Linked DNA regions of Homo sapiens: region 2 is linked to region 1. The links come from fine-mapping of genetic effects on gene expression. A gene starts in region 1. The other region holds a variant in brackets. All regions are shown on one strand. Distances are between the middles of the regions.

What was found.
Region 2: its variant is fine-mapped to the expression of CCDC149 in whole blood (INTERVAL, PIP 0.92).

What each region holds. Positions count from the first base shown.
Region 1 is chr4:24,910,748-24,916,124 of GRCh38, reverse strand. CCDC149 (coiled-coil domain containing 149) reads left to right here and starts at 3,083. Exons shown (of 13, transcript NM_001395273.1): 1 at 3,083-3,308. The coding sequence starts at 3,261.
Region 2 is chr4:24,947,123-24,952,499 of GRCh38, reverse strand. It overlaps a transcript of CCDC149 not described here. Among named protein-coding and RNA genes, the nearest start is that of CCDC149, 37 kb to the right of the region's middle. The variant C/T (reference allele first, on the strand shown) is at 2,472.

The DNA of each region.
Region 1 (5,377 bases):
CTCAATACTTTGTAACAGGGTGGCACATTTAAGACAAGGGCACCAGGTTTTAAAATGATCCTGTGCAAATGGACTGTCGGATGGGACATTTAATGTACTGCTTTTATCAGGGATAAAGATAGTTGGTGTATGGGTTTATTTCTTCTTTGAAAAAAGTTAACCACAATATAATTAGCTCTCTTTTTTGTCAGTCTGGGCTGCTGTTGATGAGGTGTCTAGAGGCCTTCTGGTATAGGTGCCTAAAAGCTTAAACTGCATTTAATTATTATTATTACTCAATGTCAGGCTACATAAATGAAAAGAGATAAAAAAGAATTGCTTGCAGCTACATTGCCTTGGTTTGTGATTTCATCACATCTCACAAGCGAAGCAGGTTTGAGCTGGCACTTGGGGCATGAAACCTCTAAGGAAAACCCAGGCAGCTAGAGATGCTGTTTCAACCGAGTTGAAAGTCTCCCCACATGCTGGGGAGGGTAGAGGCTTGCCACACTTTGATTTTGCTCCCCAGCTTTATTTTTAAATACCGTAATAACTGTCTGACTTATTTCGGAGAAGGAAAGCAAATAGGGGAAATGGAGTCACAGGGAGAGTGGTCTTAAAGGCACATAGTCTGGAATGCGAAGATTTCTTGGCTCCCAACGCTCATTGATTGTCTGTCCTGCTGCCTGAAATACCAGTGAGGGCGCCAAAGGAGCAGTGGTATATCATGAAGGGCTCAGCTAACTGTGGAAACTGGAATGGGCTTTCCCACCTGAATGCAGGCAGAGAGCAAGGTGCAGACAAGGAGGCTTGAAAGGCAGATGGACCAAGTTCTGCCCACTTTTCCTACAGTCTATTTATCCACAGGTCAGGATGAAAACAGATGGTTTGCCAGAGGGCAATATATTGGCAGACAGTACCTTGCTTTTTAGGCATGAGACGTCAGGCTTAGGAACAAGTGCTTGGCACTGAGTTAATTAACTCTAGACATTCAGCTCAAGGATGACCTTCTTTCTAGCTCCTTAGATTAAAAAGATAATGAGTTAGGCAGCCCAGAATGGTCAGAAGACCAGAAGCTTTAGCTGCATTCTAGCCCCACCTTTTTTTCTGCTGTTCTCTAGCACCTTAGTTTGCAAGCCCCCTAGGACAGGGACCATGGTGTGCAATGTTATTGAACTTCCCCAGGATGAGTGCTGCAGTTGTATACAACAGGCAGAAAACCAATGTGCTGACTAGTATACTGGTTCCTTTTCTTAGCTCCTGGCCAGCCAGTCCGTTGTAAAATTTTCTTTAGATTATGATGCCAGGGACTATTGCTTTTTGAAGGGCTGCCAGGGAGAGTTCAAGCCATTCAGGCCCTTCATCAGTTGTGTCACCATCCATTTCAGTTACCTGTTGATACCTAGCAAATCGCCCTAAAACTTAGTGGCTTAAACTACAACTACTTATTTAGTATGTGATGCTGTGAGTCAGCTAGTTGAGCAAGGCTCAGCTGGATGGTTCTTCGGCTGGTCTCAGCTGGGCTCACTCATGTGCTTGTCATCAGCTGTGCGGGTGGGGGTGGGGGGGCGTGGAGGGGGCGGCAGGCAATGGCCTCACTCACACATCTGGTGATGGTTGACTGTTGGTTGGGAATCCTACCTTAACCAGCAAGCTATTCGGAGCTTATTTACATGGTTTCCAAGAGCAGAAGCAAGAGTTAAATCCTAATGCACAATTGCTTTAAAAGCCTTTTTTTTTCTTTTTTTTTTTTTTTTTTTCTGGTAACACATGTACAAACGTTGCTTTGGTCAAAGCAAGTTACATGACTGAGCACAGAGTGAAAGAGACAGTGGCAGGGCAAGGGACAAAGAAGGGGAATGATTGCTGCCATTTTGCAAACAGTCTATCATGTGCAAAACAAGGCCAAGAACAAACTTTCAAGGTGATACTTCATTCTTAGATTTCCAAGATGCTAGAGCCAGAAGTCCTAGTTGAGTCCCTGTTTCTCCACGTTTCAGGCCTCAGTTTCCCCATCTAATAAATGAGGATAACATCCATTTCACAGGGTTGATCCAGGATCAACAGGGGCTAAAAATTATAAATAAATGTTGGTAATGATGCTTCCACAACTGTACAATGGGTTCACAACTTCTCAACCTACTTGCTCATCTCCACACACAGCGTTTCTGCGAGTACAGAGGGCTCACTATTGATAGTGGTCCAAGAGGGGATTTTAGGTGTCACAGGAACAGCACCTTGAATACGATTGACTTATGTGTGTGATTCACCTTCCCTCTGTCATTCTCTTTCAGTCTTTCCTCTTAGGAGAAGTCTCAGCTTAATGCCAATGCCTTCCCCTTTTGCTAATTATTTTATTTTTTGTAAAGAGGGGGTGTGTCACTTTGTGGCCGAGGCTGCTCTTGAACTCCTGTCCTCAAGGGATCCTCCTGCCTCAGCCTCCCAAGGTGCTGGGATTACAGGCATGAGCCATGGAATGCCACCAGTGCCAATTTGTCTTTGACACCTCTCTCAACCCATGCTAACCATCTCCCTCAGAGTTTTTGGCCCTATTTAGAATTGAATAATGCTTTATTTTCAATTTTTACATTTGCTTTCTATTAATGACAAATGATACGTTAAAAAATATATAAGCAAGCACTAATAGTTTAAAAAACAATGCTAAGTATATAATAAAACGTGGTTCATTCATTCTTGCGTTCAACAAATATTCGTCCAATAAATATATGTAGAGCATCTCCTATGGGCCAGGATCTTGCCAAAGGCACATCTGCGAACCAAGGAAACCCCTGCCCTCGGGGAGCTTGCATTCTAGGCGTGGGAGTCGTGATGGTGGTCGGAGAAGGACTGGATTTGGGGATTTGCTTCTTGCGGGGGACACAGGCCTGCCCGTGGGGCCCGCCTCCCGCGCGGAGAGCGCTGAGGGGTCCGGAGTGACCTGTAGGCTGAGACCCTGGCTTCCCCTTGCCTAGAGGCCGGGCAGGAGGCGCGGAGCCCGAGGTCGCGGGGCTGAGGGCGCGGGGCGGGCCCGGCGGGGCTCGGCTGCGGCCCGGGCTGTGTCTGCGGCCCCGGCGGCCGCGCCCCTCCTCCCTTTCCCTCCGGCGGAGGCTGACGTGGAGTCAACAGCGCTGGCGGCCGCGAGAGGCGGCGGCGCAGCGGCTCGGAGGCGCCGGGCCCTCTCGGGGCCGCGCGGGGCCCGGGCGGCGGCGGCGACGCGACGTCGCGAGGAGGAGGAGGCGGCGGGGGTCCAGGAGGCCGGCCAGCGCATGGAGGAGGAGGCCATGAACGGCGACCGGACTGAGAGCGACTGGCAGGGGCTGGTGAGCGAGGTGAGGCCGCGGCGCCGGCCAGGCGGGATGGGCCGGGCCGAGCGGCCGCCAGCCCCGGGCCCGCGCCCCCAGAGAGGCCGAGCTGGGAGGGACGAGAGGGGGGCGCGCACTCCAAGTGGCCGCGGCTGCCGCACCCGCGCGACCCCGCCAGGTGCGCCGCTCCTCCTGCACTTTCGGGTCTGCGCGGGCGCCACTTTCTTCCGCGCCATCTGGTGTCAGCCTTTGGGGAGGGGCCTTCCCCCCAAGGCAGGGGTTGGCCCTGGATTGGAGGCTGAAGCCCTGGGATCCGGGAGCAGAAGGTGCCAAGCCCCACCTGCCTGCCCGCTCGCCACTGTTGTGGAGCCAAACAATTGGACGCCTGGGACTGAAACGGGAAGGTGGTGCCATGGGGGAGAATCCGAGCCCTGGGGTGGAACCTGGGCCAGGTGGAATTACCTGCGGCGGTGGTTCGAGTTGGGGGAGTTCGGGGGTCCGCTGCAGCCGTTCACTCATTCACTTGCTCAATTCAATCAACACGTGTTTACTGCAGGCCTACCATGTGTAAGGTGGGGAGGGGCATTTATCGAAAAAGTGAAACACAGGTGCAGAAGTGATTCGATTTGTGGAAGCACAGAACACCGTGTCCCCCTGCCCTGCGACTCTTTTGTCATAAACATACCCTGGGGGTCCACTTTCAGGATCCTATGCTGTTTGCTCTTCAGTTCCCCCTAAGAGTTTGCCGGCCTGCCGGGAGAAGCTGCCGGCCTCTCCAGGTGAGAGGGAATGCGGATTTCTCCCTCTCACCTGGAGGCAACCAGGTAAGTTGCCCTGGTTTGCCACCATTTGTGGGGGCAATTCCTGGTGTTACTTACCCATGCCGGGGAATTTCTCCCTTCTGAGAACCAAGCTCCAGCCAAGGCCAACTTGGGGCTTCCTTTTCTTTAATCCTGTGCACACAATGCAGAGTGTATCGGTTTGCTCTTTTCCTTTCCTTGTGGGTTATGGGAAGGGAAACCCTCTACTCCCTCACTCCTTTCATCGTTTTCTGGGTCTCCAGGTCAGTCTGATAATAGTGCTTCATGCCCAGTGTGTGCAGAGCGTTGTGTTTCTGAAGAGGAATGACATGCGGTAGCTCCTGCCCTAGTTTAGTTTGCTCAGCATTGGTCTAGTAGTTGAAAGCTCTCCTAACTGTCTGGTGTTATGATCCATTGTATTGCAGCCTGGCTCCATCTTCTCAAACTGTCAGGCTTTATGTTAAGGGGCAGATCCTCTGGGGACCTTGTTTCTGGTCCCATCAAGAATCATACTTAGTAGTCAAGGAGGCTGGAGGTAGTTCTCCTTAGAAGTCCAGTGTTAGGCCCTTAAATAGCAGCAGAATCTTCACTACTCCAACAATTGCATATCAGGTGCCTGTTAGGAGTCAGTACATTGTGAGGTGCTTGGGATTCAGTGGTGAATAAGACAAAGAACTCCCCTACCCTCAAAGAACTCCTGGGGGTTTCATGATATAGTCTGGGAGGAAGGTCATACCGTAGACAGTGAGAGTGAACTAAAGGATGGAAAGGCTTCAAGTGCTAAATGGCATGGGGTGCCCCTCAGTTGGCTGGGCTTAACCTTCACCTTGCCCTGACCACATTATTGTAACAATAGGCTTCCTCACTAGGCCGTGTGCTTTGTTTGGTTCTTTATTCCAGGGCCTATACACAGAGCTCTGTATGCAGCAGGTGCTCGAAAAATGCTTGTTGAATAAGTCAGTGAATCCTGAAGTAGGTCCTTCAGGAGTTTTCCTGCCCATCCCAGCAGAGTTTCTCCAGAGTAATACCTCCTTAACTTCACAAACATGAGGTGGGCACGTAGCCAGGGGCCATGGGGGAGGTGAAAATGGGTCTAACTTACTTCCCACCTTAATAATAACTAATGACTATTTTTTGAGTGCATCCTTCATATTAAGCATTTTACATGGCCTCATATTCACAATGACATAAGGTAGGAATTCTTTCTTATTTTACAGATAAGGAAACAGTGGCTCAGACAGGCTAAGGAACTTGCACAGAGCCTCACATCTGGTAAGTGGAAGAGGCAGGATTTGA
Region 2 (5,377 bases), 36 kb before region 1:
CTGTCTCAGACTCCTGAATAGCTGGGATTACAGGCACCTGCAACCATGCCTGGATAATTGTTGTATTTTTAGTAGAGATGGGGTTTCACCATGTTGGCCAGACTGGTCTTGAACTCCCGACCTCAAGTGATCCTCCTGCCTTGGCATCCCAAAATGCTGGGATTACAGGGATGAGCCACCTTACCCAGCCAAAAAATATGTTTTAAAAAGTAACTTAAATTTCGCCTACTTCAGAACTGAAATGGCTCCAAACCATTAATAATAGAATACACATATGTATAAACAAAGCCGAAGGTTTGAGGCGTGCACGTTAGCACACACTGCACACAGATGTGTACACGTATGCTTCACCATGCTTCCAGAGGAGTGGGGTTGTGAGTGCCCTAAAGCCTAATTGAGAGAAATTGTTGGGGACTTTATGTGAAATGATGAGAAAGAGGATGATCTGAGAAGGGAACAGTTTAACTGAAGCAAAGGCAATGAGCACCCAACAAAAAGAGGACTCTCCTTTCAAAATTGAGAAAGGAAAAGGTCTCGTCCTTCACAGAAACTCCTTTTCTTCTAAGACCAAAGGTGCCCCATTAATATACAGCACTTACCTCTGCGGAGTTTCAGAGGGTGCATCTGCAGTGTGGGCTTTAGTGAAGATTTGGATTATTAACATGCAAATTAATAATAATAATTCCTGCCCCTCGAATTGCACTTCTTTCTGAAAGGCCTCAAAGAGCTTTACTGTTTACCATTCCACACAAAATGCTGCTTTCTCTAATAACACTGTGAGGTATAAATGGCCACAAAACAGATATAAAAAGGAAACAATTTAAATACAGTCACTATCACAGGTGCATTTGGGATGGGAAATGTATTTGGTCGGATAAATTGTTATCAGTCAGCTTTTCCCTTCTTTTCTGCTTTTTTTAAGCCACCAGAAAAACCCAGAGTAAGTTACCATGAAAAGCTATAATAATGCTAATTTTGTTCCCATTTCCTGGCTTTTTCCACTAGACTTGAGGCTTTTTAATATGACTTTAAAATTATTTTTCCCATTAATAATAGCCTCTCTTTTGTGCTCTGCTCTTTTGAAGTTGTATTATTATTTACCTCTATGACTGACTATGGCATATTTGCTGTTTAAAATCGACTCCTAATGCATGAAAGCACATTCCCAAGGGCCACGCTGTCCACCCTGAAGTTTAAAAGCTTCCAAAAATGAGAGGGGATGCATGATTCTGAATGGAAACATTCGGGGCAGCTTGCCCTGAAGGCTCCTTGGGTGTAGGCAGATCTGGACTGTGGAATGAATTTAAATGAGGAGGCATGCATGGGATCTGTCACTTGCTGCCTGCAGCCCGGGTGACAGCCTGGGCACCCACGGAACCCACACATGTGGTGATCACCCACTGCAGGTAGCGATTTCCTGTGTATCCCTGCCTGAGGCCCCCTTCCCCACTCCCCCAGCTTGACAACACCTGCTTTTTAACCTAAAGGGGTCCCCAAAGATACATAGATGCTGAGCTATGATGTTGAGGGAATCTGTTTCCCAAATGCTAGATTTGAGGAACACAGGGAGCAGCCAGTCAAGACATGAGAAGACTTAATTCTCATTAAGTCAACTTCCTGTGGCCACGTTGGCCAGGTCCTGCTTATTAGAGGTTCTGAATGGTGGCTACACAGGCCCCAGACCCCTGAATTGGGAAAGAAGTTTGTTTCCTTAGTAAACATAGCTTGTATGGTGGGGAAAAAATGTGTTTATTGAATACGTGAATGAATGAGTAAATGAAAAATAAAGGAACTTGTTATTACCCTCCACTGCCACCCTAAGGGGTAAGTACGATAATTATCCCCATTTCATAGATGAGAACACTGAGGATTGGAGAAGGTCTAAGTGCTTGCCAAGATTATGGAGCTGGCTCATGGCAGGGTTTAGATTTAAATCTTTGTCTTACTCCAAAGGCTGGGATTCTCCACTCCCCTTCCAATGTTCTGCTCATTCCCAGCAGCCATATTCCCACCCCCGAGTCCACTCGATTTGGGGTCCATACTGAAATGAAAATAGTAAAGTGATGTTGAGTAATAACAACTAACATTTGCATTGCGCTTACTCTGTGTCAGGCACTGTGCTAAGTGCTTTGCAGATACTAATTAAATACATTTTCACAACCCACCTATGAGGTTGGATTAGAATCACCCTTCACAGATGAGAAGGCTGAAAACAAAAATAGTATTACTTGGCAGCAAGTGGCAAAGACTGGATTCAGCCCTGGGCAGTTTGGCTCCAGAGTTCATGCTCACAGCCTTTGCATTCTCACTGTGATATAGACAGGGGCTCTGGCATACTCTCTCTGCCACCTCATGAGGCTGAGGAATGTCAAGGCTGTCCTTACCAGTTTCTACCAGGACAACAATTTCTCTCTTGAGTTTCCAGGTCAGGGGTGACCCCTGCAGAGATGGCTGTTACACACAGATGGTTT[C/T]AGCCATGTGCCTCTGGTATGAGCCAAACTCTCTGATCCTTGGCATAACCTATGACCTCTGTCGCCATCCTTCTCTTCACGGCCACCTCTGCTGTCCCCTCTGTGCACCTGCAGGTTCCTAAAGCAACCACCCACCTTAGTCACAGGCCCCGGGGAGTCCACGGATGAATCCCTGACAACATCTTGGGGAAAGATCCCACTGGTCTTATTCTCCTGCCTGCCACTTCCTTCCCACGCAGGGAATTAGATCCTAACTCCACAATGCACTGTTCTTGCTGTTTTCTCTCAGGTTGACAGAGCCCGAGTCCTGCTTTCCTGGCCTCAGTGCTGCTGTGGATGAGAAATATCTCAGGGCCCTTTCTTTCTGGCTCTGAGGTTTTCGTAGTTGGCTTGTGTGTTTGCAAATGTGTGTAAGCCCCTTGAGACTAGGAATTCTATCTTATTTACCCCTTAACCTCAGAACCTAGCACAGCATCTGGGTCAGTAGAGGTGCTCCACTGGTGTTAGCTGAATGAGTGAATAAACAAATATAGGAGCTCAATATATTTGAATAATGACAGATGAGGGAGTCCCCCCACCACCCCCCCTCCCTGCCACCACTACCTCTCTACAGCTGACAATTTGGAAGGAATCTCAGAAGCTGGAAGTGTCTTTCTGCACAGGATCAGGTCCCTGTAAACGCATGAGGGTGGGGCATACTGTGTGCACGGAAGCCCCAGCTACATTCAGGGCAGAGCCTCTCTGGTCTGTTTTACCTAAGAAGTCTCCGAGTGCATCTGTCCCAGCAGGAAAGAGATGCCACATTTCTGTGGGGTCTTGAGAAGAGTTTAATGAAGAGGTTATTTCCAACAGAATGGACAGTGTTCCAGGAAACCCCAAAGGCATGATGAAGCCCTGGAGGCTAACAACAGCCGTTGCTACCCTTGTCTGAATGGGCAGGATTAGGGGATTCTATTAGTCTGTTTTCACACTGCTGATAAAGACATACCAGAGACTGGGTAATTTATAAAAGAAAGAGGTTTAGTTGACTCACAGTTTCACGTGGCTGGGGAGGCCTCAAAATCATGGCGGAAGATGAACGAAGATCAGAGGTACATCTTACATAGTGGATGGCAAAGAGAGAGTTTGTGCAGGGAAATTCCCCTTTATAAAACCATCAGATCTCATGAGATTTATTCACTATCACAAGAACAGCACAAGAAAGACCCACCCTCATTATTCAATTACCTCCCACCAGGTCCCTCCCATAATATGTGGGAATTATGGGAACTACAATTCAAGATTTGGGTGGGGACACAGCCAAACCATATCACGGATGATTCTGGAACCCAGAGAGAGGAAAAGAGAGATATGGTGGAAGGAGGACACTGGGCAGGAGCACTGCCACTGCCAACCAGTGGCCTGGGAGGGAGGGAGTTGTAGGTGTCAACATCCTGCCCTCTATCTTATTTCATCCTCCAATCTTCTATGGGCACCTCCTGCTGGCTAAACCTGAGTGGAAGCTGGCCGGCAAGGGAGTTTAATAATGCAGTCCTCAGCATTGTGGAGCAAGAGCAGGGTGAGAATGCTGGAGCATGGGTCTGCAGAGGCAAAGTGAAAATCCAGCAGAGTAGGATGAATCCATGAGCAAAAAGCCTCCTACTATTAAAAAGACAAAGATAACCAACATTGTGAAAGCCGTTATTCTGCATCAACCTTTTTATTTCACAAGGGTGGAGATTGAGGTAGAAAACAAGGACTCAAGTTGATCCATTTGTAAACCTAGAACCCTTGTCACCTGATGGCAAATCCCTAATTTGTCCTCGAGAACATCCTTTGAACTTTCTCTCTTGGATGTACTTCAGAGTCACACGCTTCTCTAAGGACAGCTATTTGCAACCACTTTCTGATTTTTCAGGATAGGTTTCTTAAATCACCTGCCGTAGCCCACTGCCTGCCACTCCTACGCCTGTGAATTTACAGTTCCAGTTAAAGTAACGTCCATGAACAGGGAGGGAACGAAGGCTCTCCCTATCCCTTCAAGCCCCCAAATTGATTTGGCACTCGAAGTCACTGTTATATTTTATACTGAGTCTTCTGAATCAGTTCATTGAATTTTAGCTGTAGCTATATAAAATCCTCTCCAGTGAAATTATTTGGCCATATTGCGGATGGCTCTGCCATAATCCATCAATGCCACTAACTATCTGCAATAAAAAAAAAAATCCTCCTTCTTTTTTCATTGTAATGAATTTTCTAAACTCAGATTGAATCTTGGAAGGTAATTTACTGGCTTTTTAATTTTTAAAAGGTAGCATTTTGTATTTTTTATATGAAGCCCACAAGATGAGTGGTGGCAAATTTTGAATATTTCCTATTCTGAGAAATGTTGTTGAGGATGAGGTGATTCAGGCAACCCTGGCTTGGATTTCATGGAAGAGGAGGATAGACGTGGGGAGGACTTCATGGGAGTCCAGTTTGACATAGACATCTGTGACTTTTTGTAGGTTAGGAGGGAGGAGTTCTCTACATGTATTAGTCCGTTCTCACACTGCAAATAAAGACATACCTGAGACTGGGTAATTTATAAAGAAAAGAGGTTTAATTGACTCACAGTTCAGCATGGCTGGGGAAGCCTCAGGAAACCTACAGTCATGGCAGAAGGGGAAGAAAACATGTCCTTCCTCACATGGCGGCAGCAAGCAAAAAGAGGAAAAGCCCCTTATAAAACCATCAGATCTCATGAGAACTCACTCACTATCATGAGAACAGCATGAGGGTAACCACCCCCATGACTAAATTACCTCTCACCCTGTCCCTCCCATGACATGTGGGGATTATGGGAACAAAAATTTGAGATGAGATTTGGGTGGGGACACAGCCAAACCATATCACTAAGCAAAAAGCAAGGATGAAAATTCAGCTGA